Linked DNA regions of Homo sapiens: region 1 is linked to region 2. A link means that fine-mapping ties the variant in region 2 to the expression of a gene that starts in the linked region. Tissue or cell type: whole blood. Region 2 holds a variant in brackets; the other region holds the start of a gene. All regions are shown on one strand. Distances are between the middles of the regions.

The links. PIP is the estimated chance that this variant, and not a neighbour inherited with it, causes the effect.
Region 1: it holds the start of RAP1B, and the variant in region 2 is fine-mapped to the expression of RAP1B in whole blood (TOPMed, PIP above 0.99).

The regions. Positions count from the first base shown.
Region 1 is chr12:68,608,775-68,612,899 of GRCh38, reverse strand. RAP1B (RAP1B, member of RAS oncogene family) reads right to left here and starts at 2,001. Exons shown (of 8, transcript NM_001010942.3): 1 at 1,857-2,001. RefSeq lists a silencer at 1,685-2,144.
Region 2 is chr12:68,378,448-68,382,711 of GRCh38, reverse strand. No RefSeq gene overlaps it. Among named protein-coding and RNA genes, the nearest start is that of MDM1, 48 kb to the right of the region's middle. The variant G/T (reference allele first, on the strand shown) is at 2,480.

The DNA of each region.
Region 1 (4,125 bases), 230 kb before region 2:
CGTCAAACAAGGAAATGCAAGTGAAAACACCTAACGTAGTACACATTAAAAGCACAGATGAGCTCAAATAAGACTAAAGGAAATGCAAGTGAAAACACCTAACGTAGTACACATTAAAAGCACAGATGAGCTCAAATAAGACTATCATTCAGGCTCTGTGTGCTTAAAGTTATTTAATCTGAGTATCAGTTTCCTCACCTAAAACCTGAGGATGAAACTACTCAAGTGGTTTTTTCTCCTATTTGACTAAGGTACCCACTTTTTAAAAGTGCGATATGGGAAGAATATTCTTTGTAAGATGATAATTCACTATAAAAACGTTGTATTTCTTTCTCCATGTTGTCTCTTACGGATAGACTACTGTCCTAAAGGTCAGTGGACCCACTAACTGGTTATCTTATCTAGGCCTCAGTTTCCTCCTCCATAAAATGACAGGGTGGGACTGGATGATCTAAATAGTCCCTTCCGGCCCTTAAAAAGTCCCATGACTCCACTATGACTCAATAAATACTATTTCAAGAGTCAGCTTTTAAGAATAATATGGGCTTGAAGTTAAATGAATGTCTCCCTTTTCTATAAGTTACTTTTTGTTAAGATAAGGTCTTGTTGAGCAAGTCCAAACAGTATTCTAATTACGAAAAAAGAGAGCTGAAAAATAAATTTACAAGTCAGAGCTTTAAATTGTTAAGTACTCGACATATATGAGATGCTGCCTGCAAAACCAAAATCCAATTAGACGGAATTAATTTTAAAATACTAAAATCACAATCTTCATTTAGTGTCAACTTTCTACCCCGTAAAAATGTGATTTCCCCTTACTGCAACACAGAACTGCTTCTATTCATACCAATCAGAAGTTACAGGGCCAAAATGTTTTTCTAAACTATTAAAGAGAGTGGGAGAGGGGGGAAAGCGAAGGGGAAGGAAACCATCTGCTTTAACTTGCAAAAATGATCTTTTCTCCAAAAGACATCAGTGTTTTTCAGAAGAAAAATCCGGAGAGCCCGGTTCACTGGGCGTAGTTTTAAATAAAATTCATGGCGCTGATAGTTTTAGGATTAGACACCTCGAGATGGCGAAAAAGAGAAGAGGACAAACTTCCTGGATTTTCTCTCCCTCTAAGAGAAAGAGATTTCCTCTTGCTGACGAAGGGAAAGGCCCCTTTAACAGTTTTTCTCTACACGGTGGCTGCTGCCAGACTAAGTGGGGCTCTCTCCGCTGCCTTCCTCCTGCCACTTCCCGCAACAAATGGAGCAAGCAAGCCCCGTTTCAGGCAAACTTTTTCGCTGTCAGGCTCAAGCCCGCGGGGCGCCTGGGAGTGGTTTCCCCCGAAGGCTCCTCGCCCTAGCTCGGGGCTGGGAGAAGCTAGGTCTTCGCAAAGGACAACTTTCTGGTTTCCGTTCTAACTTCCACCCATACCACGGAGGGAACCCAGGCGACAAGCGAGGGGGCTCGGGGCGGGGAGCGAGTCTTCGGGGGAGCCGGCGGGGAAAGGAGGGCGGCGGGAGAAGCTGCGGCGGACGCGGGCTGAAGAGAGCGGGCGGGTGGGGGGGTCCTCGGGCTCTCACTTCCTCCGCCATATTTCAGACATTTGACCCCTTCCGCAAAGCGCGCTGTTCTCCCGCGGCGGCGGCGGCTGCTCCTCCTCGCCGGCCCGCAAGGCAGCGCGCTCGCGGGCCCGGCGCCTGGCCCTCGCGCCACCTGCCGCGCGCCGAGGGGCTGCCGCCGCCGGGGCCCCTGACCGCCGCGCCCGGCCCGCGCCTCGCCGCACCCCACCCGCTCCCCTCAGCCGGCGCCCGGCCCCGCGCGGCCGCCGCCGCGGCTTCCCTCAGCGGCCACGCACTCACTCTGCGAACCTCTCACGCTGTCACCGGGTCCCTGCAGCCAGCGTCGCCCCGCGCTCCCCCCGGGTCGCTACTCTAGGCGCCACGGCGGTCCTGCCGCTGCCGCGCCGCTCCGGCTGGTTTACACGCCTGAATCTGGGCGAGGTTTGGCGATGTCGCCTTGACGTCAGGCGTTCAGCCTCGCTCCAGCTTCCGCCCGCGGGCGGGGCGCGCGGGTGCGCGGCCCGGGAAGGGGCGGGCCTAGGGGGCGGGGCGAGGGGAGCCGAGGGGGCGGGGCCGCCGCGCGCCGGGTCCTCGGCGCCGGCCTCTAGCCGGCCTGCATCGCAGCCGGAGCGCAGGCCCTGCCCACGGGCCCCTTAGCTGCCTCTGGGCGGCATGTCTGCCGAGGTTCTTCTCTCTAGCTGCGCCGCGCCTTCAGGCTCGCTTCCCCAGGCTGTCTGGTGGGCGGAATCCGCGCGTCGGTGTTCCTGACCCTCGTGGGTTCCAGTGGAACCCTCCGAAACCCAAAAGGCGCCGCCTCTTAATGCAAACTGTAGTCACCGACTCGTCCAGTCTGTTGGTATTCGCGTCGTCCTTTGTGCTGGGCAAAGTAACCGAGAAGTAACGGAGAGCGCGCATTTTCTACACCTAGAGCTCCCCGAGGGAGCCTGGGCCAGCAAGTCTTTCCATTCTTGAGATGCCTTTTCTCCTGGATTGACAAGTGTTTTATCCATTGGTGTCTTAACCCGGGCGAACTCTTTCCAAATTCCCATGCCAAACGCAGTTAACAAATCGATGATTTCTAAATAAGTTTGTACCCTGCACCTAAACCAACGCCATTTATATAACTAAAATAAATTGCGTATTTAAATGCATGTCCTGGACGCTTTATTCACTTCACAGGATTACCCATAGGCAAGTAGGTTTATCGTGTGACTTCAGGGCACCAGAAAACACTTTCTGTTCCAAAATGCCTCGTTCCAAAAAGGGCGGGAACTTAACACGGGAATTTACCATTCTTACTTACCCTTAGTACAAGAAATTTATCAGAACTTTTTCTTGAAGCAGTTTTGATGGGCGAGGAGATTAAGAGAGCAAAGTGCAGGGAAAAGGGATTGAGGGGTCATTTAAGACTAACTTTCTTGGTTCATAATTTAATTAGGCCCTGTACAAATTATTCTTGAAATAAATCTTAATAAACGTTGATAAATTTGGAAGATAAATGGAATGTGACTAATTTCACTCCGTTTAAGAATATGTAGTGATTGAAAACTAAGCTAACCTAAGTTAAATGAATAGATGAGAATGAATTATAACAGTTCTCTGTGTTTTATAATGTTTTACAATTTAGGTTAATTGAGTAGATTACCTATTTCGATAATTTCTATTTCCTTAGAAAAATATCTTTTTAAAAATTGTTTATTGTCTGCATTTATTGTGTATACAACATGATCGTTTGAAGTAATGTATACATTGTTACATTACCTCACAGAGTTACCTTTTTTTTTGAGAGTCTTGCTCTGTCACCCAGGCTAGAGTGCAGTGGCATGATCTCGGCTCACTGGAATTTCTGCTTCTCAGGTTCAAGAGATTCTCCTGTCTCAGCCTCCCGAGTAGCTGGGATGACGGGCGCGTGCCACCACGCCCAGCTAATTTTTAGTAGAAAGGGGATTTCGCCATGTTGGCCAGGCTGGTCTCGAATTCCTGACCTCAGGTGATGCGCTCGCCTGGGCCCCCCAAAGTGCTGGGATTACAGGCGTGACTCACCGCGCCGGCTGAGTTAGCATTTTTTTTTTCTTTTTTGAGACAGAGTTTCGCTCTTGTTGCCCAGGCTGGAAGGCAATGGCGTGATCTCGGCTCACTGCAACCTCCGCCCCCACCTCCCACCCTCGGGTTCAAGCGATTCTCCTGCCTCAGCCTCCCGACTAGCTGGGATTACAGGCATGCGCCACCACGCCCGGCTAATTTTGTATTTTTAGTAGAGACGGGGTTTCTCCATGTTGGTCAGGCTGGTCTGGAACTCCCGACCTCAGGTGATCCGCCCGCCTGGGCCTCCCGAAGTGCTGGGATTACATGCGTGAGCCACCGCGCCTGGCCTTGAGTTAGCATTTTTTTATGAGAACACTTAACATCCATTCTTTAGAAAACCTTTTTAAATAAAAGTTTCAAAGGCAAATTTCAGAGCAGTCCGTTGGAATTACTGTAACTTCTCAATGAATGAGTGAATTACAAATAAATTTGACTTTACTAACTTTTCAGTTATTGCATAAAAATTTGATAACTGAAAGTCTGAAACTTTGAG
Region 2 (4,264 bases):
TTGAAATATGAGTAAGAAATACGTAGGGTCATGATCTCTATAAGCCCATTCTTTGCTTCTTAATTAAATTTTGCAGCTGATAGAAACATTGAAAGCAGAGCATTAGCTTATAAATAATTCAGAAAATGGTTGGTAACTCCCATAGTATATGTTTTATGAGTTTTGTTTAAGAAGAGTCTATTTCGTGTTAGGTAAAGTTGGCCATTGTTTAGAATAAAGACCTGCATTACTTTCTATTCTAAATTAAACTGTTAATGGGAGTGCTTGCAAAGGCCTTGGTGCTTTTTTTTCTGTTTAATAGGAGCAACATCACTTTGGATCAATTATTTAATTTCCTTATGTCAGAGTTCTTTCAATTTAAAGGAAAATATTTCCTTTCCTCATTCCTTTTTCTCTGAGGATGAACCAGACATTGGAAGTTGTAGCCTGGGATTGTACTGGAGCTCTCACTGTGGTTGCATTCTTTCTTCACATTCAGCGTCCTCCTTAAAGCACACATTTTCACGTACATCTATTAAATTACCTGGGAGAGAGTTCTAGACACTATCAGTCAGTAAATCCAGTTGTCTCATTTTTCAGTTTTAGCTATTGTTGCGGTCATATGCCAAGGCTTGTATGAATGAAGGGTCTATAAAAATATCTGCTGTGGTGTGATTTTTTTTATCCTTGTATGAGACCATAGCATGAGACAGTAGACTGGCAAATTGGCAGGGCGAGGAGAGTGTTTGTGCTTACACGGGGCAATGAAAAGAGTTTTGATTCTTCTTTAGCTAAATGTTATAAAACTTTAAAGCTTACATTTGAATAATCGTTGCAGATGGGTTAGATAAAATCCATCAACTCACAATGTTTTTCCTGTTTCCATTCACTAGTGAGTAACAAGGTTAAAAGAAGGAATGTTCTATAAAATAAGATATAGAATTTGGGTTAGGTTTACAAGTGAAGAGTTCCTCTTTGCCCTGCCCCCAAATTATTTTTAGGCCCCAGGCCTCTGAAGCCAAGGTAATCTGCAGGGCAGCTTTCACATTTTATCACAAGTCAGTGGTCTCTCCTCTTCCTTGTCCCTCCTATCTTGCCGGCAAATGGCTCTGTGGGAAACCCATTCTGCTTCCTGTTTAAACTGTAGAAACAATTCATTTAATTCAATATCTAGCTTTTGATTCTATTTGCAAAAATACAGTTGTAAATAGTTCCATTCATTAGCCAATTTTTTTTTTGGTCTGTTAAGCATATTTGGGTCATTTTATAGTTAACCTTGGCTGAGGGAGAGAAGTTCTTTGAAGCTCTTACTTACTTACTTGTGAATTTTTGGGTCTGATATGGAGGCTTTGCAGGTCAGAAGCATGGCTTGACTGACCCAATGCCCATTTCTGGCTCTCTTCATCCTCGCTGACCTCTACAGTAGAGAAAGGAGAAGCTGAATATTCACTGCTCTAACCTCCCTTGAAGCAAGGGGTGGCCTTGTAACAGTTCTGGCCAATGTGGCATAAGCAGAATTCTGCTGAGGTGGGTTTTGGGAACGGCTTTTGATTTCCTAATAAAAGAGGCCAGAACTGCAGGCACTATTCTTTCCACCCCTCTTGGTCTTGAACATGGCTACAATGTCTGGATCTATAGCAGTCAGCTTGCAACTTTGAGACAATATGCCAATCTAAAAATGGTAGAGCAGAATTATAGATGAACAGATGAACCCTTGGTTTTTATTAGATCATGGAGCCCCATATTATACAGTACTGCTTCCCTTTAGACATCATACATGAAAAATAAATCCCTTTGTGGTAGGTTTAATACAAGGCCACAAATTCTTTGACACTCCTCCCAGCAAAGTCTAATTCACCCTCCCTTGAATATAGGCCAGCCTTACCCACTTGATTCTAACTAGTAGAATTCAGTAGATGTGACACTGCATGACTCTCCATGCTAGGTTCACAAGTGATGCGGTTTCTGCCTTTTTCTTCTCTCTGACATGTGCCTTGGGAGCTTTGAGCTGACATGTTAGAAGTCAGTCTACATTGAAGCTGCCATGCTGAAGAACTCATGTGGGAGAACACACAGAAATCGAGATGCCTGAGGAGCCCCAGCTGTACCAGCCTCTAGCTCTCTGAGTCTTCTCAGCAAGAACTGTCAAACATGAGAGTGAAGCAGCCTTCAGATGACTCTGGCCCCAGTCTTCAAGTGCCCTAGCTGGTGCCAAGTGGAGCAGACAAGCTGCCACCCACCAAGCCCTTCCCAAATTGCAGACTAGGAACAAAATAAATGTTATTTTAAGCCACTAAATTTTGGTTTGTTATATATTATAGCAATAGAAAACCAGAACCCCTTTTTTTAATGCCACTGTTAGTTGGATATTCTGTTACTTGCAGCCAAAAGCATCCTTATGTGAAATACTTAGTAGTAGAGAAGATTAAAAGAAATCACTAAAACGATCCTTTTGAGTTGCTATATGTGTTGATTATCCAATCTATTCCTCTCTTATTCT[G/T]TTTGTAGCAATCCATTTCACTGTAGCACTGATATCATAACTTCCCATTGAAGTCAGTGCTGCTTTAGTTGTATAAAGGTTTTATTTACAAAAGGGCTGGGCTAGTAGAAACATGGAAAAAGAGGGACTTCAATTCAGGGCCCCATACTGCTGTTTTCCTGCTCTTTTGGCATTTTGATTATAATAAAGACAATATTAGTAACTTCTTCACTAGGAGGTAAAGCTTGAGAGTTCCTAACTTTATAAAACTCTCATCAATGTTTGAAGCTGCTTTCTTAATGAAATGCTCCTAGCATTTGACAGCTTTATTTTTTTCATTGACATTTGCAGCTTTTAAAATAGATGAATATTTAATATCATGTTTAATAGGTCAGATTCTTTGAAGAAAATTTCCATTAATTAGTTCCCATTTTCTAAAGAATTGATGGTCACTCAGTATTGTTGGAATTCTTAAAAAGGTTTTAATCATAAATTTATTTTTAAGTCTGGCGTATGGAAACTAGCAAGGTTGTTCTAGGTTAATATACATATCCTTACATGGGAGCTACACTATAAATTAAAAATCTTTTATCCCAAAGTAACATAATACTATTTTTAGTGATGGAAATTCCTAAGCAGCTTTGCAATATTGTTTGGGCAGTCTTATTCTACTGCACTGAAACTTTAAACCTGAAAGAACAGAACTGCAACTCCTAAAAGCTAGTTGCACAAAAGCCAACTTCAATTTTGTGTCTTTGTTTACTCAATGTCCACATCCTTAAACTGTTGGCAAATTCGCAGCTGGGTGGAGCAGCAAAAATGTCATTGTGCTGATGATATGGGGAGGGATGGGTGTGGAGGCTAGATTGGGGCACCAGAGGAGTCCTTGCAAAGAAAAGTTACATAAGCGATATCATATGCAGAAGCAGCCTCTGGGTTGAAAAATAACTGCACAGGGAGTGTCAGCCTTTCTTGGATTTCACTCCCTTATTTACTATCCTTAAGGGTCAGACCTATATTCCTGGGTGGGCTGGAGAGTCTAAGTGCAGTGAGTTCCTAATAGCAACCCTGCACAATAGCTTAAAAAGCCTGGCAATGCTTTTTTGTTTTTAAAATTTTGTCTCAAGGCAGCAAGGTGCTGTATGCAAAAGCTGAATGAACATCTCAATGAGAAGCCAAAACAGGACAGATGTTTCATGCTGCGCCTCAAATCTGGTTGCTTCCAGCATGATTTCCAGGAAGCACAGAAAAACGGAGAAGACAACTGGTTTTCCTTGGCAGCTCCAAAGCAGATTAAAACAAGCACTAATTTCCCATCCTGTCCTTCTTTCGCCTATCCATCTTTTTTAGGAAACTAAATTATTAATTCATGAGACAATGCCTTGTATTCATGACACCTGATATTTTTATTTTTGTAACCTGTGAAAAATAAGTTGTCATTGTGTGTCTCTCCTGTGTCAGAGATTCCTTGGGGTCCCATGTCATAATTTACTTGGTACCAAGCCCCCATCTAGCACCTGAGGGAAATTATATATATGCAGTCATACAGACTGTGGGAATGGTGGGAGTAGGGATGAAATGTAACAAAACTGAGACAACTGCAAGTACATATGAGATCTGCCACCTGCCTAGGGTGACCCTGAACTCTGAGCACCCCAATATGTTAAGTATCACTTGAGATCTTCACATCATTAGGGAGAGGCAGGTATTTCTGTTCTTTGGCCATCGTGTGCTCCACATCTTACTTGATGGCATTCTTTGGATTAGGACCCTTAGTGTCAGTCCTAAGCTCCTCAGACACCTCTG